Regions from separate parts of the Homo sapiens genome. Here regions 1, 2 and 4 are each linked to region 3. Evidence: fine-mapped expression QTL. A gene starts in region 3. Each other region holds a variant in brackets. All regions are shown on one strand. Distances are between the middles of the regions.

What was found.
Region 1: its variant is fine-mapped to the expression of PRAM1 in whole blood (TOPMed, PIP above 0.99).
Region 2: its variant is fine-mapped to the expression of PRAM1 in whole blood (TOPMed, PIP above 0.99).
Region 4: its variant is fine-mapped to the expression of PRAM1 in whole blood (INTERVAL, PIP above 0.99).

Annotation. Positions count from the first base shown.
Region 1 is chr19:8,433,813-8,441,913 of GRCh38, forward strand. It overlaps MARCHF2 (membrane associated ring-CH-type finger 2), which reads left to right. Exons shown (of 5, transcript NM_001005415.2): 5 at 4,576-5,205. The coding sequence ends at 4,734. Among named protein-coding and RNA genes, the nearest start is that of HNRNPM, 7.1 kb to the right of the region's middle. RefSeq lists a silencer at 8,053-8,101. The variant G/C (reference allele first, on the strand shown) is at 4,649.
Region 2 is chr19:8,540,578-8,548,678 of GRCh38, forward strand. It overlaps MYO1F (myosin IF), which reads right to left. Exons shown (of 28, transcript NM_012335.4): 11 at 7,660-7,740; 12 at 7,459-7,545; 13 at 5,073-5,159; 14 at 3,720-3,887; 15 at 1,329-1,414. LOC124904633 (a long non-coding RNA gene) reads left to right here. Exons shown (of 3, transcript XR_007067131.1): 3 at 5,508-6,748. Among named protein-coding and RNA genes, the nearest start is that of ZNF414, 30 kb to the left of the region's middle. The variant T/C (reference allele first, on the strand shown) is at 4,633.
Region 3 is chr19:8,498,894-8,506,994 of GRCh38, forward strand. PRAM1 (PML-RARA regulated adaptor molecule 1) reads right to left here and starts at 3,747. Exons shown (of 10, transcript NM_032152.5): 1 at 3,672-3,747; 2 at 1-887. The coding sequence starts at 3,698. RefSeq lists enhancers at 1-302, 6,912-7,412, 7,452-8,038 and silencers at 6,829-6,878, 6,899-6,998, 7,109-7,368.
Region 4 is chr19:8,529,961-8,538,061 of GRCh38, forward strand. It overlaps MYO1F (myosin IF), which reads right to left. Exons shown (of 28, transcript NM_012335.4): 17 at 6,989-7,095; 18 at 6,539-6,637; 19 at 6,292-6,436; 20 at 499-613; 21 at 236-405. All of the region lies in intron 1 of LOC124904633 (a long non-coding RNA gene), which reads left to right. Among named protein-coding and RNA genes, the nearest start is that of ZNF414, 20 kb to the left of the region's middle. The variant CAG/C (reference allele first, on the strand shown) is at 4,370.

The DNA of each region.
Region 1 (8,101 bases), 65 kb before region 3:
AAGATCGTGCCACTGCACTCCAGCCTGGGTGCCTGAGTGACAGAATAAGACTCTGTCTCAAAAAAAAAAAAAAGAAAAAAAGCCTGAATGAGAGACAGACAGAATGATGGGGGTGTGAGGTATTGTTCTAGGCCTCTGGTAGGCAGCAGAACCCTTGCTTAGAGGCAAAAGCTCCCCCAAATCTCACCCCTCAGACATAACCACTATTGTCCAGCTGTAGGGGAGTCCCTGCCTCACAAAGTATTTTTCAATGAACCTACCAGCATTTCTTTTTTTTTTTTTTTTTTTTTGAGACGGGGTCTTGCTCTGTCACCCAGGCTAGAGTGCAGTGGCACAATGTTGGCTCACTGCCATCTCCGCCTCCTGGGCTCAAGCGATTCTCCTGTCTCAGCCTCCTGAGTAGCTGGGATTACAGGCATGTGCCACCACACCCAGCCAATTTTTATATTTTTAGTAGAGACGGGGTTTCGCCATGTTGGCCAGGCTGGTCTCGAACTCTTGACCTCAGGTATCCACCCACCTTGGCCTTCCAAAGTGCTGAGATTACAGGCATGAACCATCGCGCCCTGCCCCTACCAGCATATTTTAAAATATGTAAATAGGATGAAATCATAGCTACTGTTTTAGCATCTGCTTGTTTTCATTTTGCTGGTGTTCTTTAAAAAAAAAAACCCACACACACAACGAGGCAGCCACCCAGCAGACATTCATTGTATGGGTGGACCATATTTATTTAACAAATCACTTTTGACAGGCACTGGGATTTTTTCCAATGTGTGTGTGGTTTTATTTCTACTTCCTTGTTTTTTCCATTATGAACAGTGCTTTGGGACTGTCCATGCAAATGTTTCTTGGGAACTTGCTTGGTCAAAGGATGTGAACCACTGACCTTTATTTATTTATTTATTTATTTAGCCGGAGTCTCACTGTGTCGCCCAGGCCAGAGTGCAATGGTGCAATCTCAGTTTACTGCAACTTCCGCCTCCCGGGTTCAAGCAGTCCTCATGCCTCAGCCTCCCGAGTAGCTGGGATTAAGGCATCTGCCACCATGTCTGGCTAATTTTTGTATTTTTAGTAGAGACGAGTTTTCACCATGTTGGCCAGGCTGGTCTCGAACTCCTGGACTCAGGTGATCTGCCCACCTTGGCCTTCCAAAATGCTGGGATTATAGGCGTGAGCCATTGCGCTAAGCAACATTTATTTTTTAATTTTTTTTTTTTTTTTTGAGACAGAGTCTCGCTCTGTCACCAGGCTAGAGTGTAGTGACGCGATCTTGGCTCACTGCAACTTCTGCCTCTCAGGTTCAAGCAATTATCCTGCCTCAGCCTCCCGAGTAGCTGGGACTACAGGTGTGCGCCACCATGCCCAGATAATTTTTTTTATTTTTAGTAGAGACAGGGTTTCACCATGTTGGCCAGGATGGTCTCGATTTCTTGACCTCGTGATCCGCCCGTGTCTGCCTCCCAAAGTGCTGGGATTACAGGTGTGAGCCACCACACTAGGCCATTTTTAAATTTTTTTATAGACTAATTTTTAGAGCAATTTTAGGTTCACAGCAAAATTTAGCAGAAAGTACAGAGAGTTCCTGTATATCACCCTGCTCCATACGCACACAACTTGCACAGCCTCCCCCACTATTAACATCGTTTACCCAAGCAGTGCATTTGTTACAATCAGTGAACCTTCATTATCCCTTTAAAGCCATAGTTCACATTAGGATTCACTTCTTTTGTTTGTTTGTTTTGAGATGGTATCTCGCCCTGTCTCTCAGACTGGAGTGCAGTGGTGTGATCTCCGCTCACTGCAACCTCTACCTCCTGGGCTCAAGCGATCCTCCCACCTCGGCCCTCCCAAGTAACTAGGACCATAGGTGCCCACTACCACACCTGGCTAGTTTTTGTATTTTTTGTAGAGACAGTGTTTTGCTATGTTGTTGTATCTGGTCTTAAACTCCTGGGCTCAAACCTTGGCTTCCCAGAGTGCTGGGATTATAGGTGTGAGCCACTGCACCTGGCCTGTGTGTGTGTGTGTGTGTGTGTGTGTGTGTGTGTGTGGCGGGGAGGGGATAGGATTGTTCTTTGTCACCCAGGCTGCAGTGCAGTGTGGCGTGATCATGGCTCACTGCAGCCTCAACCTCCCAGGCTCAATTGATCCTCCCACCTCAGCTTCCTGAGTAGCTAGTATTACAGATGTGTGCACCACGCCTGGCTAATTTTTGTATTTTTTTGGTGGAGACCGGGTTTTGCCATGTTGCCCAGGCTAGGAGTTGACTCTTGCTGTTGGACATTTATAAGTTTTGATGAATGTATAATGACATGTATTCACTATTTTTTTTTTTGGGGGGGACAGAGTCTCACTGTGTGCCAGGCTGGAGTGCAGTGGTGCGATCTTGGCTCACTGCAACTTCCGCCTCCTGGGTTCAAGCGATTCTCCTGCCTCAGCCTCCCGAGTAGCTGGGACTACAGGCCTGTGCCACCACGCCCAGCTAATTTTTGTATTCTTATTGGAGATGGGGTTTCACCATGTTGGCCAGGATGGTCTCGATCTCTTGACCTCGTGATCTGCCCACCTTGGCCTCCCAAAGGGCTAGGATTACAGGTGTGAGCCACTGCACCCAGCCATATTCACCATTATAATATCAGACAGAGTAGTTTCGTTGCCCTAAAAGTCCTCTGTGCTCTCTCTATTCATGCCACCCTCCTTTTCCCCAAGCCCTATCCACTGCTGATCTTTTTACTGTCTCCATGGTTTAGCCTTTTCCAGAATGTCCTATAGTTGGAGTCATTCAGTATGCAGCATCTTCAGGTTGGTTTATTTCATTTGGTGATAAGCATTTAAGGTTATTTTCGTGGCTTAAGGGCTTTCTTTTTTTTTTTTTTTTTTTTTTTGAGGCAGAGTCTCGCTCTTTCACCCAGGCTGGAGTGAAGTGGAGCGATCTCGGCTTACCGCAGCCTCCGCACCCCTCCCCCACAGGTTCAAGCGATTCTCTTGCCTCAGCCTCCTGAGTAGCTGGAATTACAGGCACCCGCCACCATGCCTGGCTAATTTTGTATTTTTAATAGAGATGGGATTTCTCCATGTTGGTCAGGCTGGTCTCAAACTCTGGACCTCAGGTGATCCACCCACCTTGGCCTCCCAAAGTGCTGGGATTACAGGTTTGAGCCACTGCGCCCAGCATTTTTTTTTTTTTTTTTGAGACAGGATCTCACTCTGTTGGATTGCAGTGGCGTGAGCACAGCTTGCTGCAGCGTCAACCTCCAGGGCTCAAATGATTCTCCTACCCCAGCCTCCTAAGTAGCTGGGACCACAGGCCTGGGCCACCACACCTGGCTAATTTTTAAATATTTGGTAGAGACAAGGTCTCGCTATGTTGCCTAGGCTGGCCTTCGACTCCTGAGCTCAAGTGGTCCCCACGCCTCGACCTCCTAAAGTGCTGGGATTACAGGCATGAGCCACCTTACCCAGCTTCGTTTCTTTTTAGCACTGAATAAGATCTCATTATCTGGAAGCACCACTGTTTATTTATTCATTCACCTATTTTTTTTTTTTTTTTTTTTGAGACGGAGTCTCGCTCTGTCGCCCAGGCTGGAGTGCCGTGGTGCGATCTCGGCTCACTGCAAGCTCTGCCTCCCAGGTTCACACCATTCTCCTGCCTCAGCGTCCCGAGTAGCTGGGATTACAGGCGCCCACCACCACGGCCGGCTAATTTTTTGTATTTTCAGTAGAGATGGCGTTTCACCGTGTTAGCCAGGATGGTCTCGATCTCCTGACCTCATGATCCACCTGCCTTGGCCTCCCAAAGTGCTGGGATTACAGGCGTGAGCCACCACGCCTGGCCTCATTCACCTATTGAGTGACTTTTTTTTTTTTAAACTTTTTTTTTTTGTTTGCACGTTCTGGTTGCACGTTTTGGCAATTATGTGACTGATTTACATTAAAAAAATTTTTTTGAGACAGGGTCTCACTCTGTCGCCCAGGCTGGAGTGCAGTGGCGTGATTTCGGCTCACTGCGGCCCATATCTCCCAGGCTCAGGCGATTCTCCTGCCTCAGCCTCCCAAGTAGCTGGGACTACAGGTCCGTGCCACCACGCCAGGCTAATTTTTGTATTTTTAGTAGAGACGGGGTTTTTAGTAGAGACAGGGTTTCTCCATGTTGCCCAGGCTGATCTTGAACTCCTGAGCTCAAGTGATCTTCCCCCGTGCCCGGGCTCCCAAACTACTGGGATTACAGGTGTGAGCCACCTCGCCCGGCCTGATTGATTGACATTTAATGCCTTCCAAGAGGCTGTTTCACTCCTTTCCCACTGAGAGGCAGGAAAGGAGCTCCCGTTTGCTTCCTGCTGGTGTGTGTGGGGTGTATCTTGTCTTTGCAGGACTCTGGAAGCTGGTGGGTGTCACCAGGAGTGTGAATGGGTCTGTGTGTGTGCACTTTGTGGGAGGAATGTTCATAAGCCAGCTCTGCTTCTGGAAGCATGAGCCCCAGCCATGGTTTGGGCCAACGCAGGTGCCACCACGGCGACTTGTTTTCCTCCCTTGCGGGTGGAGGCCTCCGCTCACTGCAGGGCTGCCCCACAGGTCTCCTTCCGCTACCACTGCCAGCTGTACTCCGAGTGGAGAAAGACCAACCAGAAAGTTCGCCTGAAGATCC[G/C]GGAGGCGGACAGCCCCGAGGGCCCCCAGCATTCTCCACTGGCAGCTGGACTCCTGAAGAAGGTGGCAGAGGAGACACCAGTATGAATGCTGGGCTCTCCGGACCCTGCAGCAGAGAGGCCAGAGGTAGCTGGTGATACCCTGTCCTGTGGAAGGACTTCCACTTCAACACTTCCACTTCAACAGTTCCCGCACGGCCTGAACGCTTCTTAGGCCAAGAGACACCATGCAGAGCCTAGTCTGTGATCCTGTGTGAAGATATTTTCAGGGTTTTTTTTTTTTTTTTTTTGCATATGGAGGACAGGTGGACATGGTCCTGAGCTCTGGACGGAGCAGGCACCCTGATCTCATTCTGAGGTCCACATGGCACCTTCTGGGCCAGCAGCTGTGGCCGGTGTATCAAGGGCGCCCTTAAAGCTGGAACATTCCAGCAAGCTTCTTGCGCTTCTCTGCACCCGGCAGGCCCACTTTCCTGGCACCCTCGACTTTATATAAAAGTTGCACTGCGTTTCAAAAACCCACCCCTGAATGAATAAAAGGAGCCCTGGCTGGACAAAATGGACTTGTCAGTTATGTTTCTCAAAGGAGGCCTCCCAGGGAGGGACCACATGGAGGTAAAAAAATAACACTGGCGGCCAGCCAGGTGTAGTGACTCACTCCTGTAATCCCAGCACTTTGGGAGGCTGAGGTGGGTGGATCACAAGGTCAAGAGATCGAGACCATCCTGGCTAACATGGTGAAACCCTGTCTCTACTAAAAATATAAAAATTACTTGGGCATGGTGGTGCGCGCCGGTAATCCCAGGTGCTACACAGGAAGCTGATGCAGGAGAATCGCTTGCACCTGGGAGGTGGAGGTTGCAGTGAGCTGAGATGGCGTCACTGCACTCCAACCTGGCGACAGAGAGAGACTCCATCTCCAAAACAAAACAAAACAAAACAACAACAAAAAACACTGGTTGGCCAGGCACAGTGGCTCATGCATGGAATTCCAGCACTTTGGGAGGCTGAGGTGGGCGGATCACAAGGTCAGGAGTTCGAGACCAGCCTAGCCAATATGGTTAAATCTCGTCTCTACTAAAAATACAACATGAGCCAGGCGTGGTGGCAGATACCTGTAGTCCCAGCTACTCGGGAGGCTGAGGCAGGAGAATCGCTTGAACCCGGGAGGCAGGGGTTGCCGTGAGCCAAGATCGCACCATTGCACTCTAGCCTGGGTGAGACAGCGAGACTCTGTCTCAAAAAAAATAAAATAAAATAAAAAACAATAAAAACCACTGGCTTGTTTTGAGGGATCTGTTCTGAAGCCCATGGGAAGAAGCAAAGGCTCAGTCTTCAAGTAAAAATCAGGTAGCAGGGTTATAAAAATGATTTTTAAAATATACATACGGGCTGGGCATGGTGGCTCATGCCTGTAATCACACTTTGAGAGGCCGAGATGGGTGGATCACCTGAGGTCAGGAGTTCGAGACCAGCCTGGCCAACATGGTGAAACCCCATCTCTACTAAAAATACAAAAATTAGCTGGGCGTGGAGACGCACACCTGTAATCCCAGCTACTCGGGAGGCTGAGGCAGGAGAATGGCTTGAACCTGGGAGACAGAGGTTGCAGTTAGCTGAGATCAGTTGCACCACTGCATTTCAGACTGGGTGACATCGTGAAACTCTGTCTCAAAAAATAAAAAATAGAAAAATAAAATAGACATAAGAACAATTTCCTCTTACTTTGCATCTGCCAGTCCACAGACCATGCTGGCCTCTGTTTTTCTTTTTTTGAGATGGGGTCTTGCTCTGTCACCCAGATTGGAGTGCAGAGGCACAATCACACAGCTCACTCCAGCCTCGACCTCCTGGGCTCAGGCAATCCTGTCTCAGCCTCCCTGGCAGCTGGGACAACAGGCATGCACCACTGCGCCTAGCCACTGTTAGTTTTTAGTTAAGTGTAGAGAGTCCAGCATGGGCCAGGCCTGGTGGCTGATGCCTGTAATCCCAGCATTTTGGGAGGCTTCGGCAGGAGGATCAGTTGAGCCTAGGAGTTTGAGACCAGCCTTGGCAACATAGTGAGACCCTGTCTTTACTAAATAAATAAATATATAAATATATATATATTAGCTGGGCATGGTGGCATGCACCTGTGGTCACAGTTACTCAGGAGGCTGAGGTGGGAGGATCCCTTGAATCCAGGAGTTCCAGGCTGCAGTGAGCTATAATTATACTTCTGTTGTCTATTCTAGGCAACAGGGCAAGACCCTGTCTCTAAAGCAAACAAACAATTTTTTAAAAATGGTGACAATATCCACGCTGACTTAGGGTGACTATAGATTAGGCATAGTTCCGAGTCTCTCCCTCCTTTGACTGTCACTTGTTAGGGAAGAAGTGGTTATTACCTACATTTTACAGGTGAGAAGACTGAGGCCCAGGGCAGGGAAGCCTTAATCTAAGGTCTCAGAGCTGTAGGAAGTGGAGCCGGGGTGACACCAGGACTCCTTTTGGAGGAAGACTCAGGAAAGATGCAGAATACGTGTTTTTTTTTTTTTTTTTTTTTTTTTTTGAAACAGAGTCTTACTCCATCACCCAGGTTGGAGAGCAGTGGCGTGATCTTGGTGATCTTGGCTTACTGCAACCTCTGCCTCCCGGGTTCAAGTGATTCTCTCTTGCCTCAGCCTCCCAAGTAGCTGGGACCACAGGCAGCTAAGTTTTGTATTTTTAGTAGAGATGAAGTCTTGTCATGTTGACCAGGCTGGTCTCGAACTCCTGACCTCAGGTGATTCACCTACCTCGGCCCCCTAAAGTGCTGGGATTACAGGCGTGAGCCACCGAGCCTGGCCCAGAATGCAGTTAATCTAATAACAACACCTACTTCTTCAGCGCTTTCTGCCTGCCGATTCTTTTATATTTAAAGGCTCTTGGCATCTGTCTGCTTTTAAAGCTCAGGGCAACCCTGAAAGGTGAGTTCTGGTGCCTTTCTTTCTTTCTCTCTCTCTCTCTCTCTCTTTCTTTTCTTTCTTTCTTTCGACGGAGTCTCGCCCTGTTGCCCAGGCTAGAGCGCAGTGGCACTATCTCTGCTCACTGCAACCTCCACCTCCCGAGTTCAAGCAATTATCCTGTCTCAGCCTCCTGAGTAGCTGGGACTACAGGCGCCAACCATCATGCCTGGCTAATTTCTGTATTTTTAGTACAGATGGGGTTTCGCCATATTGGCCAGGCTGGTATTGAACTCCTGACCTCAAATGATCCACCTGACTCGGCCTCTCAAACTGCTAGGATTACAGGCGTGAGCCACCGTGCCCAGCCTGGTGCATTGCATTTCTTATTATCCATATTTTCAGTTAAGCAAACTGAGCCTCAGAGTGGAGGAGCTGATTGCTCAAGGTCTGTTTTCCATATGAATCCCTGCCTGGTATGTAGCTCACTCACAAAGGAAGAAAAACTTTCTGCCTGGACTGGAAGGGCAA
Region 2 (8,101 bases), 42 kb after region 3:
TGGGCGTCTATAATCCCAGCTACTCGGGAGGCTGAGGCAGGAGAATCGCTTGAACCCAGGAGGTGGAGGTTGCAGTGAGCCGAGATCGTGCCACTGCACTCCAGCCTGGGCGGCAGGGTGAGAGACACTGTCTCCAAAAAAAAAAAAAAAAAATCGGATTGTGGTGATGGTTGCGCAATTCTGTGAATTTGCTAAACGTCATGGATTGAGACACTGCTTAAAGTGGGTGGATTTAATGGTAAGTGCTGCTGAAACCCTTACGTGCACATGGATCCCTGGGAGGCATGGGTGCATCCTGGCTTAAAGATCAGGTTAGGTTCCGATAGTTCTAAACCTGATTGTTCAGATTCTGATAGTTCAGAATCAGATGCAGATTCTGATTCTGGAGGTCTGGGGTGGAGTTTGAGGTTCTGCCTTTTTTTTCCCCTCAGAGATAAGGTCTGTTGCCAAGGCTGGAGTGCAGTGGTGCAATCACGGCTCACTGTAGCCTCCACCTCCTAGGCTCAAGTGATCCTTCTATCTCAGCCTCCCGAGTAGCTGGGACTATAGGCATGTGCCACCACACCCAGCTAATTAATTAATTATTATTATTTTTGCTGGCAGAGTAGACAAGCATTTAAAAAAAAGAATTTTTTTTTAAGAGACAGGGGTCTTGCTATGTTGCCCAGGCTGGTCTTAAACTTGGGACCTCCAGTGATCCTTCTGGCTAGGGAGATTCTGCACTGGAAACAAGGCCCAAGGATGCTCAGGTTGCTGGTCTAAGAACCACATGTCAAACACTTTAAGGATCCCCGTCTTATTACTTTACATCTAATGCTATGTTCTTTGTGTGTGTGTGTGTGTGTGTGTTTTTTTTTTTTTTTTTTTTTGAGACAGAATCTCCCTCTGTCGCCCAGGCTGGAGTGCAGTGGCACAATCTTGGCTCATTGCAACCTCTGCCTCCTGGGTTCAAGAGATTCTTATGCTTCCACCTCCTGAGTAGCTGGAATTACAGGTGCGCGCCACCACGCCTAGGTAATTTTTATAATTTTAGTAGAGACAAGGTTTTGCCATGTTGCCCAGGCTGGTCTCAAACTCTTGGCCTCAAGAGATTTGTCCACTTCGGCCTCCCAAAGTGCTGGGATTACAGGCGTGAGCCACTGCGCCCGGCCTCTGGAGTTACTTTTTACATCAGAACTAGTCCATAGAAACACCATCCTGGCCGCACAGCCACTCCCCTCGAGTTTGTGGCGAGATGGCAGTTCTGGGTAAGATGGAGTGGGGCCCGGTCCTCCCTCCATCCCCTTGGGGGGTTGTAGCCGGAGGTCCCCATGCCTGGGACCACTCACTGCTCACTGGTCTGCATCAGCTCTATGAGGTCGGAGAAGAGAACGTCTCGGTTCCTCTCGCAGAAGCCGCTGACGTCGTAGGAGACCTGGAGGGGACAGTGCTGAGGACAGTGAGGGACTGAGAAACCTGGCTGGGAGGGTGGGCGTGGGGTGCTTACAGCCCAGGTGGTCAAGGCTTTCCTGGGGCCTGCTGTGGGGTGAGAGGATCAGGCAGTGTCTACAGCGCTGGCTGGGGGGTATCTACAGTTCAGAATAGGGGATGGGGGGCGGGCTTCCTGGAGAGCTGATGTTCAAGTTGAGGTTAGAGGATCGTGGCTGTATCCCAGGTCAGAGGTAAGGGGAGGTGGGGGTTACAACCTAGATGAGCCAGGAGAGAGCTGCAGCTTGCATCAGAGGCCGGGGGGCGGTGAAAGTTATAGCTCAGATTGGTGGGTGGGGGGCTGCAGCCTGGCGGGGGGGTCCCTGGGAGTCAGAGGTCAGATTGGATATCTGTGACCTGGTCAATCAGGGGCCAGTGCAGGGGGCCTGTGTCAGGAGGGTAACAGCCCTGTCTCAGGGATCTCTGGGGGCATTTCAGCCAGGGTTGGGGGCTGGAGCTGCTACCAAAGGTTAGGGCCCTCTGTAGTTCTGAGCAGGGCTTTTGCAACCCTGGCTGAGGGAACATGGGAGCTCCAGCCGTTTTTGTTTTTGTTTGTTTGCTTTTTTTTTTTTTTGAGAAAGAGTCTTGCTCTATCACCCAGGCTGGAGTGCAATGACACGATCTCAGCTCACTGCAACCTCCGCCTTCCGGGATCAAGTGATTCTCCTGTCTCAGCCTCCCGATGAGCTGGGATTACAGGCGTGTGCCACCACACCTGGCTGATTTTTTTTTTTATTTTTAATAGAGACGGGGTTTCAATATGTTAGCCAGGATGGTCTCGATCTCCTGACCTTGTGATCCGCCCGCCTCAGCCTCCCAAAGTGCTGGGATTATAGGCGTGAGCCACTGCACCCGGCCCTGTTTGCTTTTGTTTTGTGAGATGGAGTCTTGCTCTGTTGCTCAGGCTGGAGTGCTGTGGCACAATCTTGGCTTACTGCAACCTCCACCTCTTGGATTCAAGTGATTCTCCTGCCTCAGCCTCCTGAGTAGCTGGGATTACAGGTGCCCACGACCACGCCCGGCTGATTTTTGTATTTTTAGTAGAGACTGGGTTTCACCATGTTGGCCAGGCTGGTCTTGAACTCCTGACCTCAGGTGATCCACCCGCCTCAGCCTCCCAAAGTGCTGGGATTACAGGCGTGAGCCACCACTCCCAGCCTCTCCAGCCCATTTTAGGGGCACTCCTAGGAACTTCTGCTCTCATGTTGTGAGATCCTTGGATCACTGCCTGAGAGTGTAGTCCTGTCTTTTGGGGAGTGGGGCTGCGGGCATGGTTAGAGTCCAGTGGATTTCTGTAGCCTTCGGTAGGGGTCTGTAGGAGGCTTCAGCACATTTTGAAGGCTGGTGGCTCACAGGAGGGGCCTGGGGGCTTTGGGGATTTCCTCTCCAAATTGGGATCAGAAGGTGGGGGGCTGTGTCCTAGTCAGGGGGTTATGACTCACATTGGGGCTTATCTGAACATAGGCAGTCTGGTACCCAAGCTGGTGTTAATCGGGGGGAATTCTGTTCCCTCTGTTAGGGGAGTTGATGTGTAAGGGAAGCTGTGGCCTGGATCAGAGGTCAGGGTTTCTGCAGCCCTGGCCCAGGGAACACGGTGGTGGTGGTGGTGCTGGTGGTGGTGGTGGTGGTGCTGGTGGTGGTGGTGGTGGTGGTGGTGGTGGTGCTGGTGGTGGTGGTGGTGCTGGTGGTGCTGGTGGTGCTGGTGGTGGTGGTGGTGGTGGTGCTGGTGGTGCTGGTGGTGCTGGTGGTGGTGGTGCTGGTGGTGCTGGTGGTGGTGGTGGTGGTGGTGGTGGTGGTGGTGGTGGTGGTGGTGCTGGTGGTGCTGGTGGTGCTGGTGGTGGTGGTGGTGGTGCTGGTGGTGGTGGTGGTGGTGGTGGTGGTGGTGGTGGTGGTGCTGGTGGTGCTGGTGGTGGTGGTGGTGGTGGTGCTGGTGCTGGTGCTGGTGGTGGTGCTGGTGGTGGCGGTGGCGGTGGCGGTGGCGGTGGCGGTGGCGGTGCTGGTGGTGGTGGTGGTGGTGGTGGTGGTGTCCAGACAAGTTTGGGGCTTAGAGAGTTCCTGGGGGGTCAGCCGGAAGGGTCTGTAGTTCTGGTTAGTAGGGGGTGGATTGAGGCGGGGGACAGTGGAATTCTACAGCCCTGGATAAGGGTCCTAGCAGGCTCTTTCCAGCCTGGGTGCTGGAGGGTGGGGGCTACAGCCTGGAGCCCTGGGGGTCTGCGAGGAGGCACAGGGTAGGGTAGGGGCAGGGGGCGCACCTTGCCAGCGTAGTGGTGGATGACGAAGCCGGCGCTCCAGCTGTTGAAATGCTCGTGGGTCCCCACAGCCGCCTGCAGCTTCTGCAGCAGTGTCTGGTCTGCTCCCCCGCCCGTGGCGTGCATGGTGGCGCACACGTCGTCCAAGACGCTCATGATGCCTGGGGGGCTCTGCGGGGCGAGCGGGAGCCAGCAGCGGCTCAGTTTGGTCTGCCTTGCCTCCCCACAGCTCGTCAGTGCAGAGATTAGGGGAGGGAGGGGGTGGAGGAGTGGAGGGAGCTAGAGCTTTGGGGGTGGGGAGGGCACCAGGGGCTTCAAATACAAGCACAAAAGGCGTTGCAGGGGTCAGGGATGGAAGGGATAGGGGGGCAAGGGTGTGTGGGGCTACTGTGGAAGCTCGCTGAGGTGCAGAAGTGGGTGGGGACCCCTCAAGAGATTCAGGCCCCAGACTAGAATCCCTTGGTAGGGGGACCTGCCTTATGTATTTATTTATTTATTTAGAGACGGAGTCTTGCTCTCTTGCCCAGGCTGGAGAGCAGTGGCGTGATCTCAGCTCACTGCAGCCTCCATCTCCCAGGTTCGAGTGATTCTCCTGCTTCAGCCTCCTGAGTAGCTGGGATTACAGGCATGCCGCCACCATGCCCGGCTAATTTTTGTATTTTTTAGTAGAGATGGGGTTTCACCATGTTGGCCAGGCTGGTTTCGAACTCTTGGCCTCAGGTGATCCACCTGCCTTGGCCTCCCAAAGTGCTGGGATTACAGGCATGAGCCACCATGTCCCGCCTAAATACGTCTTAAATTTAATTTTTTTTGAGACAGGGTCTTGTTCTGTTCCTCAGGCTGGAGTGTGGTGGTGCAATCATAGCTCACTGCACCCTTGACTTCCTGGGCTCAAGTGATCCTCCCACCTCAGCCT[T/C]CCGGGTAGCTGGGATTACAGGCGCCTGCCACCACGCCTGGCTAATTTTTTGTATTTTTAGTAGAGACAGGTTTTCACCATATTGGTCAGGCTGGTCTCGAACTCCTGACCTCAGGTGATCCGCCCACCTTGGCCTCCCAAAGTGCTGGGATTACAGGCGTGAGCCACCGGCATGGAATCTGCAAATTTGACTCTAACTGTGAGCTGGGGTTCCCGGGGAAATGTTTATTGAATGATTAAGTGAAAGGTGGACAAGTAGGCGGAATGAATGGATGAGGGGCGGAAGGGACATTTTGGTTGTTATCTGTCGCTGGAAGTCCTGAGTGTAGGGTAGAGAAGGGCCTGAGGATGCCATAACACCCTTGGCCCTCCCCCTCATCTTCCAGACTCAGCTCAGGGGACCAGTGAGACGCCCCCGCCAAAGTTGACCCAGCCCTCACCAGCTTGTTTTCGATGAGGTCACAGACGACCTTGTTGTTGAAGTACTGGATTGGAGTCCAGCGGATGCCTTCCTGCACATACTCCTCCTGGGGTGGAAAAGGGGGTGGATGTGGGGGCCAGTGAAAAAGTTGTGGCCACCCTTCCCCCCATGTCCTCTCCCCTTCTCCATCTCATCACTTAGGACTGTCTCTGGTAACAAAGCCCGTCACTCCTATGTGGGCAAGGCTGGAAGTGCCAGGGAATTACATCTGGTTTCAGCAGTCCTTGACCAATAATCAACAGGAGTGGGTGGATAAATACCCCAGCTCCCTCGCTTCTCCGCTCTATGAAGCCTCCTCGAGTCCCAGTGCAGTTGCATTCCGGTTGTCCACAGCATAACGTGCTCATTAACACACTATTTTGACTCTTTTTTTTTTTTTTTTTTTTTTTTTGAGATGGAGTTTCACTCCTGTTGCCTAGGCTGGAGTGCAATGGCACGATCTTGGCTCATCGCAACCTCCGCCTCCCGAGTTCAAGCGATTCTCCTGCCTCAGCCTCCCGAGAAGCTGGGATTACAGGTATGTGCCACCACGCCGGACTAATTTTGTATTTTTAGTAGAGATGGGGTTTCTCCATGTTGGTCAGGCTGGTCTCGAACTCCCAACCTCAGGACATCTGCCCACCTCGGCCTCCCAAAGTGCTGGGATTACAGGCATGAGCCACCGCACACAGCTTGCTTTTTTTTTTTGAGACCGGGTTTTGCTCTGTTACCCAGGCTGGAACTCAGCGATGCGATCCTAGCTCACTGCAACCTTGACCTCCAGGGTTCAAGTGATCCTCTCATCTCAGCCTTCCGAGTAGCTGGGACCGTAGGAGCACACCACCATGCCTGGCTAATTTTTATGTTTTTTGTAGAGATGAGGTCTCACTATGTTGTCCAGGCTGGCTTTGAACCCCCAGGCTCAAGCGATCCTCTTAACTTAGCCTCCTAGATAGCTGGGACTATAGGTGTGAGTGATTGTGTCTGGCTCGGTCTGTCTCTCTCTTTTTTTCTTTTCTTTTTTGAGACAGGGTCTCATTCTGCTGTTGCCCAGGCTGGAGTGCAATGGCACAATCTCGACTCACTACAAGCTCTGCCTCCTGGGTTCAAGCAATTCTCCTGCCTCAGACTCCTGAGTAGCTGGGATTACAGGTGCCCAGCACCACACCTGGCTAAGTTTTATATTTTTAGTAGAGATGGGGTTTCACCATGTTGGCCAGGCTGGTCTCAAACTCCTGACCTCAGGTGATCCACCCACCTCAGCCTCCCAAAGTGCTGGGATTACAGGCGTGAGCCACTGCACCCAGCCTCTCTCTCTCTCTTTGTTAAAAAAATCCCTGTCTCAGGACTGGGCATATTAACTCATGCCTGTAGTCCCAGCACTTTGGCAGGCCAAGGCAGGAGGATTGCTTGAGGCCAGGAGTTCAAGACCAATCTGGGCAACAAAGTGAAACACCAACTCTACAAAAAAGTTTTAAAATATTAGCCAGGCATGATGGTGTGTGCCTGCGGTCCCAGCTACTTGAGAGGCTGAAGTGGGAGGATTGCTTGAGCCCAGGAGGTGTAGACTGCAGTGACCTGTGATCACACCACTGCACTCCAGCCTGGACAACAGAGCGAGTTCCTGTCTCAAAAAAAAAAAAAAAAAAAAAAAAGCGGGGAATGGTGGCTCCCATCTGTAATCCCAGCACTTTGGGAGGCTGAGGTGGGTGGATCACGAGGTCAGGAGTTTGAGACCAGTCTGGCCAATATGATGAAACCCTGTCTCTACTAAAAATACAAAAATTAGCTGGGCATGGTGGTGGGTGCCTGTAGTCCCAGCTGCTCGGGAGGCTGAGGCAGGAGAATCACTTGAACTCTGGAGGCGGAGGTTGCAGTGAGCCGAGATCATGCCACTGCACTCCAGCCTGGGTGACAGAACGAGACTTTGTCTCAAAAAAAAAAAAAAAAATCCCTGACTTACTTCCTCAGTCTCCTCTTGGAGCTTCCTGGGATTGCCTCCCAGAAAAACCATTTGTCTCTGAATCCTTGCCTCAGGCTCTGCTTCTGGGGGAGGGGCAAAATGAAGACAGCAGGGACTATTGCCTTATTGTTCATGGCTGTGTCTCCAAGCACCCTAAACAGTACCTGGCACACAACAGGTGCTCAATAAATAATTGCTGAATGAATGAACTAAGAGGCACGGTCCTTCCCAAAGCTTTAGAGGCAGAAGGAAGTATCACTATGGAGCCTGGGTAGGTTGGCACAGAGAGGTGGGAACGCGGTGGGGAGGGCTGGGGTGTCCCCTAGTTGCTAAGGGATCCTCATGGTCCTTCCACCCCACCCCCACCCCAGGATCCCCCATCCCTGACTGCTTGGCCGCCCACCTGCTCGGCCTTCAGGGTAAGTTCGATAAAGATTTGCTGCAGCTTCTCATTGACGAAGTTGATGCAAAACTGCTCGAAGCCATTTTTCTGCAGAAGGAGGAAAAGGGTCCTTCCCTCAATGTCCTGGTGCTGGAAGTTCTTGTGGCCACCCTGGGCTGCCCCAGGGAGGACAGGATGTGGGCTGGAGGCAGGGGGCCGTACCTGGAAGATCTCGAAGCCGTAAATGTCCAGCACACCGATGCTGTACTCTTCCTGGGGTTTCTGCATAGCACGGTTGATGGCCTGCGGTGTGGGTGGGGACAGGAAGTCAGTGGGCATCGGTCAGATCTGAAGCCCCTGCCCACCACTCCTTAGACACACGCCTAGCCAACTTCATGGGTGATGTCCCCTCATGCCAGTTTCCCTCCAGCCCTCTTTAGCTCTGCCCTTCCTGGCTCTGTGTACAGTCTCCCCACCCCATAATCAGTCACTCAGAGGAGAAACCCAAGTGTCAGTGTATCAGGGTCCCTGACTCCAGAGCTGACTCTGCCCCTGAACCTCTCTGCACCTCTATTTTCTTTTTTTTTTTTTCTTTTTTTTTTTTGAGACGGAGTCTCACTCTGTCGCCCAGGCTGGAGTGCAGTGGCATGATCTCGGCTCACTG
Region 3 (8,101 bases):
AGCACGCTGACTTCGGGCTCTGAGGAGGTCCTGGTGAGGTCCCCAAGCTCAGGCTGCGGAGGCTTCTTGGGAAAGTCACTCAGCGGAGGCTGGGAGGCCTTTTTGGGAAAGGCGCTGGAGTCGCGCTTCGGCTCGCTGGACTGAGGCTTCCAGAGGGGAGTCTGAGCGGCCTCGCTGAACTCAGGCTGCGGCACGGACTTCTTAGGGAGGCCACCGACCTGAGGCTGCGGAGGCTTTTTGGGGTACACGTTGAACTCAGGCTGCGCAGGCTTCTTGGGAAAGGTACTCAACTCAGGCTGCGGGGACCTCGGGGTAGCCTCACCGGCCTCGGGTTGCCAGAGCTTCCTGGGGAATGCGCCGGATTTGGGTTCGGAGGGGGGTCTGGCGGGGTGACTGAGTTCGTCGGGCTGCAGGGGTTTCCGGGCCGGCGCACCAGGCTCCGGCAGCGAGGCCTTCAAAGGGGCCTCACCGACCTCAGGCTGCAGGGGCTTCCTTGGAAACGGAGTGGCCCCCAGCTGTGGGAACTTCTTGGAGAGGTCACTCAACTCCAGTTTGGACGGCTTCTTGGGGAGGTCAGTGACCTCAGGCGGCGGGGGCTTCTTGGGGAGGTCAGTGACCTCAGGCGGCGGGGGCTTCTTGGGGAGGTCAGTGACCTCAGGCGGCGGGGGCTTCTTGGGGAGGTCAGTGACCTCAGGCGGCGGGGGCTTCAAGGACACTGCACCAAACTCAGGCAGCGGGGCCTTCTTGGGGTGCTCGCTTAGCTCAGGCTGGGAGAACTTCTTCAGTTTACCAAACTCAGGCTTCGGAGGTTTTTTGGGCAGGTCGCTGGGCTCCGGCTGAGAGGCCTGGAACTTTGCTTTGATGCTCCGGAAGTCCTGATGGCTCTCCTAGGAGACGCAGAGCCAATGAGGCAGGGGCTCAAACACACAGAAGGGGCATGGAAGGATGGGCCTGGGGACCCTCAGGCACAGCCCACAACCACCACCCCTGCGCCCAGGCCCGGTCAGCCCTCAGCTCTTTCCCAGGAGCCCCCATGGATCCTAGGATCCTGGGACCGACACCCCTCCCTACTTCTCCATTTAGTGCTGATTCCACACCCAACCTCCTCTAGCAGCACTGGAGATCCCGACATCCCTCCTGCAGCCTCCAGTCCCACTGCCCTCCCCCCATGGGTGGTACCCCACCCCCCCAGCATCCTTGACCCCCTCATTCTTTCACCCCTCCCACTGCATGTCTCCAGTCTCGTTCCATTGCCCAGGCTGGAGAGCAGTGGTGCAATCATAGCTCACTGCAGCTTGCAACTCCTGGGCTCCAATGATTCCCCCGACCTCGGCCTCCCCAGTAGCTGGGATTACAGGCTTGAGCCGCCGCGCCCAGGCCCCCAGTCCCTTCTGTGCTAATTTCAAAACACATCCGGAATCCAACCACTTCTCACTGCCTTCACCACTGTCACCCCAGGAGGTAGTGGGAGGCAGTGTCTGCCCTCCCCCAACCAATTGCCTGGATTACTCTAACAAGCCCTTCCCTGGGCCTCTGCCTACCCCCTTCCCTGGTCAGTTCCCCCCATGGCAGCTGGAGGGAGAAGCCTGTTGAACCCTGAGTCTGTTTGTGTCCCTCTGCTCAAAACTCGGCAATGCTTCCTCATGTCCCCACAGTTCAAGCTAAATGCCTCATAAAAGCCTGGGCGAACCAGCCTCCCTACCCAGCCACCTTCTCCTCCCTGCACCCTGAACACTTCCCTCCGACCTCGGGGCCTCTGCCCTGTCCCTGACCCAGGACATGTCTCTGCACCACCTGGGTCTCTCCTTTTCCTCCTCCCAGCCTCTGTTCTCATATTTTCTTATTAGAGAGGCCATCCAAGGCCACCCTATTTGTTTATTTTTATTTTTTGAGATGGAGTCTTGCTCTGTCACCCAGACTGGAGTGCAATGGCGCGATCTCGGCTCACTGCAATCTCCACTTCCCAGGTTCAAATGATTCTCGTGCCTCAGCCGCCCAAGTAGCTGGGATTACAGGCACTCGCCACCACACCTGGCTAATTTTTGTATTTTAACTAGAGACAGGGTTTCACCACGTTGGCCAGGCTGGTCTCAAACTCACGACCTCAGGTGATCCACCCTCCACCCGCCTCAGCCTCCCAAAGTGCTGGGATTACAGGTGTGAGCCACCGTGCCCAACCTAGACCACCCTATTTTTCTTTCTTTCTTTTTTTTTTTTTTTTTTGAGACGGAGTCTCACTCTGTCACCCAGGTTGGAATGCAGTGGTGGAATCTCGCCATACTGCAACCTCCGCCTCCTGGGTTCAAGCGATTCTCAGCCTCCTGAGTAGCTGGGATCACAGGTGTCTGCCACGACGCCTGGCTAATTTTTTTTGTATTTTTAATGGAAACAGGGTTTTACCATGTTGGCCAGGCTGGTCTCGAACTCCTGACCTCAAGTGATCCACCCACCTCGGCCTCCCAAAGTGCATGAGCCATCACGCCTGGCCTAGACCACCCTATTTTAAATGGATCACCCCATCCCACTACTGCCCTGCATTCAGCATGCATGATTTTCTCCATCGTACCCACCCCTACGTATTATACTATTTTACATTGTTTTTAATGTGTCTTGATTTTTTTTTTTTTTTTTTTTTGTCTCTCTACACCACAACTTCCCTCAGTTCCTCAGCCTCTGCAAGGCAGAGACTTGGCTCATTCATTGCTGTCTTCCCAGGGCCTGGAACATGGTAGGTGCTCAGTAAATATTTGCTGAAATAAACAATATTCAGGCAGCACAAAGACAGCCATGTACTCAGCCTGACCATCAGGAAAACACAGAGATGCCTGGAGACGGCCATGCGGTCCCTCTCACACCGTCTCTGACATGCGGGCTGATGGTCAGGAATGCTCACAGTTGACAGTGCCTGAGAGGATTGGTGCAGACACCGTGGGCACAGGCGCTGTCTCCTGCATACCCAGCTGTCCCAGCTGCCCTCCTAGCTGGCCCTGCAACCACTCCTCACAGAGGTAGGCAGATTCACAAGAAGGCCAGGCCTCCTTAGTCCTACAAACGCCCCTTTCACCTGTGGTCAAGGAGATTGGGGGAGGGAAAGGGCAGAAACGTGTGGCCTTTGCTTCCTGCGTGTGCCTCACTTTCCCCATCCAGAGGACCAGAGACCAGGATTGCTCCTTGGAAAGGCAGCAATTCCCACCTGGGGCCTGAAGTGCCCCTGTCAAAGCCCCGAGTGGTTTGAAGGAAGTGCTCCCGGGCGACCACAGGGCTAGATAAGTCAGGGTTAGCAGGTCACAACTTGGGTGACTGGACGGGGGAGGGTCATGACCCACTTTGTCACCCCGCAGGAAAGCACTGCTCTCACCCCAGCAGCCCGTTCCCACATGGCTGCTCATGTTGACCTGGGGAGACGGGAGTTGTCCCCCCGGGGAGTCCCATCTGTCCCCCTCGCAGTCCCAACCTGAGCGTGAACCCCCAGGAGCCCGCGCTGTCCTGGGGTGTGCCTGGTGGCCGCCTACCTCGGGTCCTTTTTGCCGACCCTTCCCGTTTCCCAGATGTCTTTCGCAGCCACCCCCCGCCCCCCCGCCCGCCCCTCCACAGGTGGATCCTATCCTTCTGGGAACATCTGTGTCCCTTGCTTCCCAGCCAGTGAGGCACAGGCCTCTTCCAGCACTCACCATGGCTGCAGGCAGGTGATGGGCCATGGGATGAGTGGGACCCGAGCTGGGGCCGCTGCCTTCAGGAAGTGACTGTGGCTTCTGCTCCACGGTCAGCACACAGGGTGGGGGCTGCTAGAGGTGGGGCGGGGGAGGGCAGAGGAGGAAGGGAAGGAGGTGGGGAGGCTCCAGTCCGTCTCCAGATCCTGCCAGCCACTTCTTTTTTTTTGAGACTGAGTCTTGCTCTGTCGCCCAGGCTGGAGTGCCATGGTGCCATCTCGGCTCACTGCAACCTCTGCCTCCCGGGTTCAGGCAATTCTTTTGCATCAACCTCCTGAGTAGCTGGGATTACAGGCGCGCACCACCGCTCCTGGCTACTTTTCGTATCTTTAGTAGAGAAGGGGTTTCACCATGTTGGGCAGGCTGGTCTCAAACTCCTGACCTCAAGGGATCGGTCCGCCTCGGCCTACCAAAGTGCTGGGATTACAGGTGTGAGCCACTGCCCCGGCCCCTGCTGGGCACTTCTATTTCGCTTGAATTCCTGTCCTGCCTGCTACTGTCCCAAGCTTGGGGCACTGGTTGCCCGCATGTTCCTAACATGGTCACTAGTTTCTTTCTTTTTTTTTTTTTTTTTTTTTTTTTTGAGACGGGGTATCACTTTGTTGCCCAGGCTGGAGTGTAGTGGCGCAATCTCGACTCACTGCAACCTCCGCCTCCCAGGTTCAAGCGATTGTCCTGCCTCAGTCTCCTGAGTAGCTGGAATTACATGCATGTGCCACCACTGCCGGCTAATTTTTTGTATTTTTAGTAGAGACGGGGTTTCACCATGTTGGTCAGGCTGGTCTCAAACTCCCAACCTCAGATGATCTGCCCGCCTCGGCCTCCCAAAGTGCTGGGACTACAGGCGTGAGCAACCACGCCTGGCCAACTAGTTTCTTACTCTCTATAGTCCCCATCATTCCTACTACTTTGGTGTCCCCATCTCTGGACTCCAGGGAGGACTCCATGCCAGGCCCTGGTGACCTCCTGGGCTAGAGAGCCACAGGATGGGGAGATCTCAGCAGATCAGGGGTACGGACAGCTCTGGGGTTTAGGAGGCTCCTGGGGAGGCCCAGAGGCCCAGGACGTGGGGGCCCATGTGACCGGGTGAGGCCTCTGCTGTCTGCCCTGGTTGGCTCATCCGCCTTCCTCATTTCAACACTTCCATGAAATCCAATTCCCGGCTCTGAGCAGGACTCACTTGTTCTGGGGCAGATATCACAGGCCATGGATGTCCCAGGCTGCCGCCCTGGGCAGAAAGCTTAGCTGGTACAGCAGATTTGGGGGTCGGTGGGTGAGTGGTGTCAAAGGCCTTGCACCTGGGCCACGCACGGTGGCTCACGCCTGTAATCCTAACACTTTGGGAGGCTGAGGCAGGAGGATCACTTGAGCCCAGGAGTTCAAGACCAGCTTGGGCAATGTAGCAAGACTCCATCTCTACAAAAAATATAAAATTAGCCAGGTGTGATGGTGCACGCCTGTGGTCCCAGCTGCTTGGGAGGCTGGGGTGGGAGAATCACTTGAACCCTGAAGGCGGAGGTTGCAGAGTCAAGATCACGCCACTGTACTCCATGCTGGGTGACAGAGAGAGACTCCATCTCAAAAAAAAAAAAAAAAAAAGGCTTTGCAGTTCTGGAGGAGTGAGGGGGTCTGAGGACCCGAGGACACACCAGATTCCCAGAGGTTAGAGGTAGTAGAGAGAAGAGGAACCAGGAGACAGAGACAGGGGCCAAGAGGGGGTGAAGGCAGTCACTTGTGGTGCCGAGGACTGGCCAGATAAGGACAAGCCCTGACCACAGAGCTCAGCCCACAGGAGATCAGTAATCTCCGTCACGGTAGACAAAGGGAGAAAACACCTGCTAAGAGAGTAGAGAGCCCTGGTTTTCAGTTTGAGCACATGTTGGAATTGCCTGAACAGTTAAAAAAAAAAAAAAAAGAACCGGCGGTTGGGCAGTGTGGCTCACGCCTGTAATCCCAGCACTTTGGGAGGCTGAGTCGGGTGGATCACCTGAGGTTGATCACCTGAGGTTGGGAGTTCAAGACCAGCCTGGGCAACATGGAGAAACCCCATCTCTACTAAAAATACAAAAATTAGCTCGGCGTGGTGGCGCATGCCTGTAATCTTGGCTACTTGGGAGGCTGAGGCAGGAGAATTGCTTGAACCCAGGAGGCGGAGGTTGCAGTGAGACGAGATGGCTCCACTGCACTCCAGTCTGGGTGACAGAGCAAAACTCCATCTAAAAAAAAACAAAACAAAAAACAGAACCTACAAGAAACTCTGACTTAATCAGTCTGGGGTGTGGCCCGAGCAAGTATTTTTAAAACATTTTAAAATTTTTTTTTTGAGACAAAGTCTTGCTCTGTCTCCCAGGCTGCCTCCCGGCTTCAAGTAGCTGGGATTACAGGTGCCTGCCAACATGCCCGGCTAATTTTCTGGATTTTTAGCAGAGCTGGGGTGTCACCATTGGCCAGGCTGGTCTCAAACTCCTGACCTCAAGCAATCTACCCACGTGGGCCTCCCAAAGTGCTGGGATTACAGGCCTTAGTCACTGCGCCTGGCCTGCCTGTTTTCACGCCTCCTTTAAGAGCACAGACATCAGGATTCTGCCATCTCTGTTGTGCCTTTGCATCCTGTCCTGGGGCACAGTTCCCAGATGTGGGTTGCCCTCCCAAAAAGGAGTCTCGGGAGGACAGTATGGGCTCTCTGTGGGTCTCCAGAACCTTGGCAAGTGAAGGAAAGAATGAAAGAAAGAACAAGTGGCCAGGCGCGGTGGCTGACGCCTGTAATCCCAGAAGTTTGGGAGGCCAGGCGGGCGTATCACCTGAGGTCAGGAGTTCGAGAGCAGCCTGGCCAACATGATGAAACCCTGTCTCTACTAAAAATACTGTTTGTGCACACCTGTAATCCCAGGTACCTGGGAGGCTGAGGCGGGAGAATCGCTTGAACCCGGGAGGCGGAGGTTGCAGTGAGCTGAGATTGCGCCATTGCACTCCAACCTGGGTGACAAGGCGAGACACCGTCTCAAAAAAAAAAAAATTAAATTAAATAATAAAAATAAGTAAATAAATAAATCAAGCAATGCTTGGCCACAGTAAGGAGCTCAATCAAGGTAATTAAAGGATTGGATGACAGCTGATGGATTCCCAGGTGCCTGGGCTGGTCACTACCCGTGCACTCTCGCAGCTAGGAGGGTCCAGCCAGGGCGCGCGCACCAAGGCCCCACGGGGGCGCCGTGGGGGTGAAGCGCAGGTCCCGGAGCTGTAGTCATGGTGCGCCTCCCCGCCAACTACCCTTTGTGTATTTGGCGCCTCCGTAGGGGCTCCCGGCAGGGTTCCGCGCGGCGCGGCTGCAGACAGGGACAGATAGGGTTACCGGAATCCCGGAGAAGGGAGCCCGGACCAGGGGAGTGAGAGTTCGTTAGGGCGCGCCTTGGGGAATCTGCGGGGTCGGAAACGCGAACAACGGTGTGCAGGGGGAGGAGCCCGGGGAGCACGTGGGCGGCGGATCCCAGGGCCGCAGGGCGCCCTCCACCTCCCCGCTCCTGGCCCGCAATGAGGGTAACCGGACCGGCACCTGCAAGTGACAGCTGGGGCTGGACAAATGCCGGGCACGGGCCTCTGGCCGGCCTCAGAGCTGTTCAGCGCGAGCCCGCGGCTTCCAGCCAACCTGCCCGCTATCCCCACTGCTCTCCCGGCTTTCATTCCCCCGAGTCTGAGATTCCTGGGCGCCCCCTGCTGGGCGGAGCCGGGGCCCAAGAGGGCTGGGCTCCTGTGCATGGGGGTTGGGGGCCGGCTTGAGGGTAGGAGGTCGTTTCTGCAGTGGACAGGGTGAACGGTGGAGGACAGGTGGTGAGCCAGCTCCCCAGGCCTCGCGGCAGTCAGTTCACTCCAGAGGGTAGTGTGGTGGCCGTGGGCCCGCTGTACACACAGGAAGGGCTGTCCCATCTCCGTGGGTGATGGGGTAGGGGAGAGGTCCCTGGACGGACGTGTTGGCTCTAGGTTTCTCTGGAAAGATACTGACAGACTGGGAAGAGGCGTGGCCTAGATCTGGGGGTGGCCGAATAAAGAAACTGATGGGGACAAAGACTCCTGGGGGCCCCCGGGACCCTGGAGAGGGGTTAGGGGCCTGGGGGACAGAGAACACAGCGCTGTCCCTGGAGATGGGGGAGAGGCTTGGACTACAGCCAGATCTAGGGACCTGCAGAATGCGGGAACAGGGGCGTGTCCTCTGGACCTGCTGGCAGGGTTTTCTCTTCTCGTGGTAACCGTGCGCAGCTCCCAAGATGGTGCAGAATCAGTGCCGCTGACTGGGAACTGGGGCTGGCTAGAGGCCTCCTAGCCTCACCTTCTCTATATATCTGTAAAATGGGCCCCTTCACCCTGTCCCACCCTCCTCCCCAGGTCGAGAGAGT
Region 4 (8,101 bases), 31 kb after region 3:
CTATGGACAGGTGTGTCTGTGCCAGGTGAGGGTATACCTGTGATGGAACAGATGGATCTAGGCTGGGGGATCTATGCCTGTGGGCAGGTGCATATGGGCCAGGTGAGGGTGTACCTGTGATGGAACAGATGGATCTAGGCTGGGGGATATCTGGCTGTGGGCAGGTGCATCTGGGCCAGGTGAGGGTGCCAGGCTGTAGTCAGGGTCTTGCTGTGCCCACCCACTAGTGCCTCACCTTGAAGCGGCGGTCGTACTTGGTGACCGAATCGGCGAAGTCCACCCGCTCCCTCTTGCCCAGGAACTGACGCAGCTCGGGCCGCTCCTCCAGCCCCAGGTAGTCCCCGACGAAGTTCCGATTGATGCTGTTGCGCCTCCGCTCCTTCTTGTTCAGCAGGATGTTGGAAGCTGCGGGGACAGAGGGTGGAGGGCAGAGCTCCTGATACAGCTCCTCCAGGTCCTTGTGCCCCCACCCCGCGCCGTTTACCCGAAGCCTCTCACCTTCCTCCCGCATCTCCTCGTACTTCCGGACAGCCACGTGGCGCCGCCAGGCCTTCTGGATGGTTCGGGCAAAGCCATCGAACTTTCGCTCTCGCACCTCCTCCAGGAGGAAAAGCTGGGCGGGGGTCGTGGGGGGCAAGGGTGAGTCCTGGTGTCTCCCCAGGGGCTGCAGTTCCGGGTTTTCCCTGCGCTCACCCTACTCACACGCTTTTGCTCACCCATCCCCACACATGTGCTAATTTTTTTAAGAGGCGGGGTCTTTCTAGTGACACTCGTTCATAAAGAAAAGAAGAAAAAGGGGCCGGGCGCAGTGGCTCACGCCTGTAATCCTAGCACTTCGGGAGGCCGAGGCGGGTGGATCACCTGAGGTCAGGAGTTTGAGACGAGCCTGACCGACATAGTGAAACCCCATCTCTACTAAAAATACAAAAAGAAATTAGCTGGGCATGGTGGTAGATGCCTGTGATCCCAGCTACTCGGGAGCCTGAGGCAGGAGAATCACTTGAACCCGGGAGGCGGAGGTTGCAGTGAGCTGAGATCGCGCCATTGCACTCCAGCCTGGACAACAAGAGTGAAACTCCATCTCAAAAAGACAAAAAACAAAAACAAAAAAAGCTGGTGGCTCATGCCTATAATCCCAGCGCCTTGGGAGGCTGAGGCGGGAAGATCGCCTGAGGTCGGGAGTTTGAGACCAGCCTGATCAACATGGAGAAACCCTGTCTTTACTAAAAACATAAAATTAGCCGGGCATGGTGGCACATGCCTGTAATACCAGCTACTCAGGAGGCTGAGGCAGGAGAATCACTTGAACCTGGGAGTTGGAGGTTGCGGTGAGCTGAGATTGTGCCATTGCACTCCAGCCTGGGCAACAAGAGCAAAACTTCATCTCAAAAAAAGAAAAAAAGAAAAAGACAGGGTCTCGCTCCGTCGCCCAGACTGGAGTGTGGTGGTGCAGTCATAGCTCACTGCAGCTTCAACCTCTTGGGTTCAAGTGATCCTCCCACCTCTGCCTCCTGAGTAGCTGGGACTACAGCTGTGAGCCACCATGCCCAGCTAATTTTGTGGTGATGTGGTCTTGCCATGTTGCCCAGGCTGGAAAAATTTTTATCTTCCTCCAAATGACTGGACCTCCCTGTGCGTCTCTCCCCATGTGGGGTACACACTTCTGCCTTACATGATAACAGTGAGTCACTAGCTTCAGATCACAGCTGTGCCACTTACTACCTGTGTGCTTTTGCAAGAAACGGTATGATGTCACGGTTTCTTACACTGTTACTCGACACTATCCACGAGGTACACTGCCGTGTCAGAGATGGTAGAAATAGGAACCAGTGTGCATCTTGGAAAACCAATAAAATACAGTAAATATGAAAATGTGGCCGGGTGCAGTGGCTCAAGCCTGTAATCCCAGCATTTTGGGAGGCCGAGGTGGGCGGATCACCTGAGGTCAAGAGTTTGAGACCAGCCTGGCCAACATGGTGAAACCCCGTCTCTACTAATAATACAAAAGTTAGCCGGGTGTGGTGGCGCATGCCTGTCATCCCAGCTACTCGGGAGGCTGAGGCAGGAGAATCGCTTGAACTCGGGAGGTGGTGGTTGCAGTGAGCGGAGATTGCGCCACTGCACTCCAGCCTGGGCGACAGAGTGAGACTCAGTCCCCCGACCCCTGAAAAAAGAAAAGAATGAAACTCCATCTCAAAAAAAAAAAGAAAGAAAAAGAAAATCTGATGTGTAGAACTGTGATGTGACTAGCAACCGTGTGGTTGGGCAGTGTACAACCTGCACAGCCATCCGTAGCAGGCCCAGAAAGGAAGCTTTTGCAGAAAGCAGAGAAAAGGGTTTTGAGTTGTAAAAGTCTAGACCCAGAGGGGACTTAGAGAATGAATTACATTACAGCAAGTCAAAGTACAAAGTCTAAGAGGAATGTCTACTCATTTGTAATAACAGCAGGTGAACAAGGTGAGGAACCTACTGGATATTAAAATACTGTAAATCTATAGTAATAAAAACAATAGCATGCCTGTCAGAGAATAGAATGATTAACTGGAATAGGGCAGATGCTTGAGAAACATCCTACTTCAAAGAGAAACTGTGATCAAAGGGACAATATTGTCAATTAGTGAAGATGGGAAATAATGCAAATATAGGCTGGGTGCGGTGGCTCATGCCTCTAATCCCAGCAGTTTGGGAGGCTAAGGTGGGAGCATTGTTGAGCCCAGGAGTTCAAGACCAGCCTGGGCAACATAGAAAGACCCCGTCTCTACAAAAACTAAGCAAAAATTAGCTGAGGGTGATGGCACGCATGTGTAGTCCCAGCTATTCCGGAGGGTGAGGTGGGAGGATTCTTTGAGCCCAGGAGGTTGAGGCTGCAGTGAGCTGTGATTGTGCGACTGCACTCCAGCCTGGGAGATAGAGTGAGATCCTGTCTCAGAAAAAAAAAAAAATACACACACACACACACACACACACACACACACACACACACACACACAATTGGGCTTTATTTAGAAAAATTAGCACTTCACCCAGAGTGCTTTCCCAAGTCCATAGGTAGCACATTGCTGCTAAGAGCCTTGCTCCCTGCTCTGCTGACCAAAATAGTTTTAATTTTTTCAGAGACAGGGTCTTGCTCTGTTTCCCAGGCTGGAGTGCAGTGGTGCGATCTCGGCTCCCGGGCTCAAGGGATCCTCCCACCTCAGCCACTCAAGGCTAATTATGGTATTATTATATATATATTTTTTTGGTAGAGAGGTAGAGTTGGGGTTTTGCCATGTTGTCCAGACTCGTCTGGAACTCCTGGGCTCAAGGAATCTACCAGCCTTGACCTCCCAAAGTGCTGGGATTACAGGCGTGAGCCAGCGTGCCCAGCCTCAGATTCTTCTTCTTCTTCTTCTTCTTCTTTTTTTTTTTTTTTGAGACGGAGTCTTGCTCTGTCGCTCAGGCTGGAGTGCAGTGGTGCGATCTTGGCTCACTGCAAGCTCCGTCTCCTGGGTTCACGCCATTCTCCTGCCTCAGCCTCCCGAGTAGCTGGGACTACAGGCGCCCGCCACCATGCCTGGCTAACTTTTTTGTATTTTTTTAGTAGAGACATAGTTTTGCTGTGTTAGCCAGGGTGGTCTCAATCTCCTGACCTCATGATCCGCCTGCCTCGGCCTCCCAAAGTGCTGGGAATTACAGGCGTGAGCCAGCACGCTTAGCCTCAGATTCTTCTTTAAAACCTTTAGAGAGTATGGCCATGCCAACACCTTGATTTTGGACTTCTGACCTGCGGAACTGTGAGAGAATAAATTGCTGTTGTGTTAAGCCATGGAGTTTGTGGAACTTTGTTTCAGCTGTCCCAGCAGACTATTATAACATACCTGGGATGCTGGGCCACAAAGGCCAACAGGCAGATAAAATGTTTGAGGATGGCCCAAACCATGTTCATAAGAAAATCAAAATAGGGGCCGGGCGCGGTGGCTCATGCATATAATCCCAGCACTTTGGGAGGCTGAGGTGGGCAGATCACTTGAGGTCAGGAGACCAGCCTGGCCAACAGGGTGAAAACCCATCTCTATTAAAAACACAAAAATTAGCCTGGTGTGGTGGCGGGTGCCTGTAATTCCAGCTACTTGGGAGGCTGAGGCAGGAGAATTGCTTGAACCAGGAAGGTGGAGGTTGCAGTGAGCCAAGATTGCGCCATTCCACTTTAGCCTGGGTGACAGAGCGAGACTCTGTCTAAAAAAAAAAAAAAAAATTCATCCCAACATGAATGCATTTTTGGTTGAGAAAGGCTCCAACTCCATTAAGCTAATTTAATTTCTTGATTACTTTTTAAATATAGCACAGTTAAACCGTTGGCTATTTTTCTTTTCTTTTCTTTTCTTTTTTT[CAG/C]AGTCTCACTTTGTCCCCCAGGCTGGAGTGCAGTGGCGCAATCTCAGCTCACTGCAACCTCTGCCTCCCAGGTTCGAGCAATTCTCCTGCCTCAGCCTCCCAGGTAGCTGGGATTACAGGCACGTGTCACCATGCCCGGCTTATTTTGTATTTTTAGTAGAGATGGGGTTTCCCCATGTTGGCCAGGCTGGTCTCGAACTCCTAACCTCAAGTGATCCACCACCCTGGCCTCCCAAAGTGCTGGGATTACAGTTGTGAGCCACCGTGCCTGGCCTTTTCTTCTATTTTCATTTTACTAATTTTTTTTTTTTTGAGATGGAGTCTCACTCTGTTGCCCAGGCTAGAGTGCAGTGGTGCGATCTCGGCTCACTGCAACCTCTGCCTCCTGGGTTTGAGTGATTCTCCTGCCTCAGCCTCCTGAGTAGCTGGGATTACAGGTGCGCACCACCACACTTGGCTAATTTTTTGTATTTGTAGAAGAGACGGGGTTTCACCATGTTGGTCGGGCTGGTCTTGAACTCCTGACCTCGTGATCCACTCGCCTCGGCTTCCCAAAGTGTTGAGATTATAGGCGTGAGCCACTGCACCCAGCTTATTTTACTAAAATTAAATTACTGTTGCCCAGGCTTGAGTGCAGTGGCACGATCTTGGCTCACTTCAGCCTCTGCCTCCTGGGTTAAAGTGATTTTCCTGCCTCAGCCTCCTGAGTAGCTGGTATTACAGGTGTGCACCACCACGCCCAGCTAATTTTTGTACTTTTAATAGAGAAGGGGTTTCACCATGTTGGCCAGGCTGGTCTCAAACTCCTGACCTCAAGTGATCCATCCACCTCAGCCTCCCAAATTGCTGAGATTACAGGTGTGAGCCAGTGCGCCTGGCCAGCAAGATTATTTTCATCAGGATTATTTTCTTTCTTTTATAAATATTCAGTCTGTCTTTGTTGTTGATGTTCTTATAGGATTTTACCACTAAGCATCTGCCATCGTGAATTTCATTATTTCTACCCCGTCCGTCTTCTCCAAATCAAAATCTATAGACTGAAATTTTTGTCTAAATTAAATTTTACTTTATATAGTCTTTGCTGGTGATAGTTATTTTTCTTTTTTCTTTTTGTCTTTTGTAGAGACAGGGTCTCACTATGTTTCCCAGGCTGGTCTCGAACTCCTGGCTTCAAACCATCCTCCTGCCTCAGCCTCCCAAAGCACTGATATTACAGGCATGCGCTACCACACCTGACTTGGTGCTAGTTTTATTTTGCCTTTTTTCTGTTCTATGTCAAAATTTTTGGTCTATTTCTTCCAGAGTGTCTCTCTCAATCTCTCTCTCTCAATCTCTCAATCACATTCTTTCTTTCTTTTTTTTTTTTGAGACGGAGTCTCGCTCTGTCGCCCAGGCTGGAGTGCAGTGGCGTGATCTCGGCTCACTGCAACCTCTGCCTCCTGGGTTCAAGCCATTCTTCTGCCTCAGCCTCCTGAGTAGCTGGGACCACAGGTGCCCGCCACCATGCCCGGCTAATTTTTTTTGTATTTTTAGTAGAGACGCGGTTTCACTGTGTTAGCCAGGATGGTCTCGATCTCCTGGCCTTGTGATCCGCCCTCCTCAGCCTCCCAAAGTGCTGGGATTACAGGCATGAGCCACCGCGCCCGGCAGTCGCAGTCTTTCTTAATCTCTCGCTCAGTCTCTCTCAGTCTCTTACTTTCAGTCTATTAATCTCTCACTTGCTTTCTCAATTTCTCTCTCAACCTCTATCTCAGTTTCTCTGTCAATCCCTCTCTCTCAATCTGTTTCTCAATTTCTCAATCTATCAGTCTTTCTCTCAATCTCTGTCTCCCTCTGTCTCTCTCTCTCTCTCTCAGTCCCTCTCTATACCTTTCTCTCTCTTCCCCTCTCCTTCTCTGCCTGTCCCTCAAACACACTCACCGACTCTGGGTTCTTGACAAAGACCTTGGTGCTCCCCATCTGGTACTGGTCGGGCTCCATGTTGACCGCCCGAAGCAGGTGCTGGACGCCCTGGCGTTCGTCCCCACGCCACCGCGGCCACGTCTCGGGGGTCAGAATGGCATACCTGAGGGCGGAGGGCTGGGGTGTGGGAGTGCTCATAGCAGACAGGCCTGGCTGGGCGTTCTGATGAAGGGGATGGCGAGGGCGGGGGTGGAGGGCTCCTCACCTCTGCAGGAATTTGGCGAACTGGCGGCGGTAGGCGAAGCCGGCTCTGCGCACCCTGATGTTCTCCTTCAGGCCCAGGTATTCCACCTGGTGCTTGACTCTGGTGGGGAGGGTAGGCTGAGTCCCCTCGGGGTGGGGAGTCACCAGTCCTGGGGGTGGGTGGGAGGTGCTGGAGGTGGGGGACCTGGGGGGATCTGGATTCATGCTGAGGGAAGTTTGGGGGGTGAGTTCTGTGGTCTGGGGGGGCTTCGGGGGTCAGCCTGGGGACTGGGGGGAGGGATCTTGTCCTGATGGTCCCTTCTGGGGTCAGTTCTGCAGGTGGGGGATTGTGGGAGGGGCTGTGCTAGTCCCTGGGTCATCCTACAGGAGGTCAGGGAGGTGTCTCGGTCAGTTCTAGGGGTAACTGCAGGGCCTGGGGGGAATGAATCTTGGATTGGTTGGGGGGGATCACCTGTTCTCCTCCCAGTCTCGGGGCCTCTTGGTCTCGTTGGGTTTGATGCAGCGGATGTAGTGGGGTGTGCACCTCATCAGTGTGGCCACCAGGTCGTTGGCTTGTTTCTGAGGCAGAAGTGAAGACGGGTGGGTGGGGGGCACAGAGATGGGACCCTCTGGCCCCTCTTTTTTCCACCCTGGATACAGTCCCAATAGACAGAGACTGGGGGTGGGTGAGGGCTGGTAACAGATAAGCCACAGGGGCCAGATGTCCCTGGTCTGTGTGCACCTCCACTAGTGCACACCACACTAGTGGGACTGATGTGGGGTGTCTGCCTGACCCTGGAACCCAAGACAAGGAGCTCTCACGTCTACCGCACTCACCACTTACCTTGGCACATAGTAAGTGCTCAGTAAATGTTTGTTGACTGAGTAACAGAGCCCTTATGAGAGCATTTCTTTTTGTCCTTTGGGGAGATAGGTACCTTGGGTGTTTGTTTTTTTTGTTTTGTTCTGTTTTATTTTGTTTTGAGATGGAATTTTGCTCTGTCACCCAGGCTGGAGCGCAATGGTGCCATCTTGGCTCACTGCAACCTCCACCACCTGGATCCAAGAGATCCTTCTGCCTCAGCCTCCCAAGTAGCTGGGATTACAGGCATGTGCCACCACACCCGGATAATTTTTAGTAGAGACAGGGTTTTGCCATGTTGGTCAGGCTGGTCATGAACTCCTGACCTCAGGTGATCCATCCACCTCTGGCTCCCAAGGTGTTGGGATTACAGGCATGAGCCACTATACCTGGCTGGGTGATTTTTTTTGAGACAGGGTCTCCCTCTGTCACTCAGGCTGGGGTATAGTGGCGCCGTGATAGTTCACTGTAGCCTCAGCCTCCTGTGCTCAAGCGATCAACTGCCTTAGCCTCCGGAGTAGCTAGGATTACAGGTCTGAGCCACTGTGCCTGGCTAAGACATGTACTTTGGAGGTAGGGAAACTGTGTGTATGCCTGAGAGGTTTGCCTTGGGTTTTGCATTTTGTTTTATTTTTATTTTTATTTTTATTTGGAGACAAAATCTCGCTCTGTTGCCAGGCTGGAGTGCAGTGGCATGATCTCGGCTCACTGCAACCTCCGTCT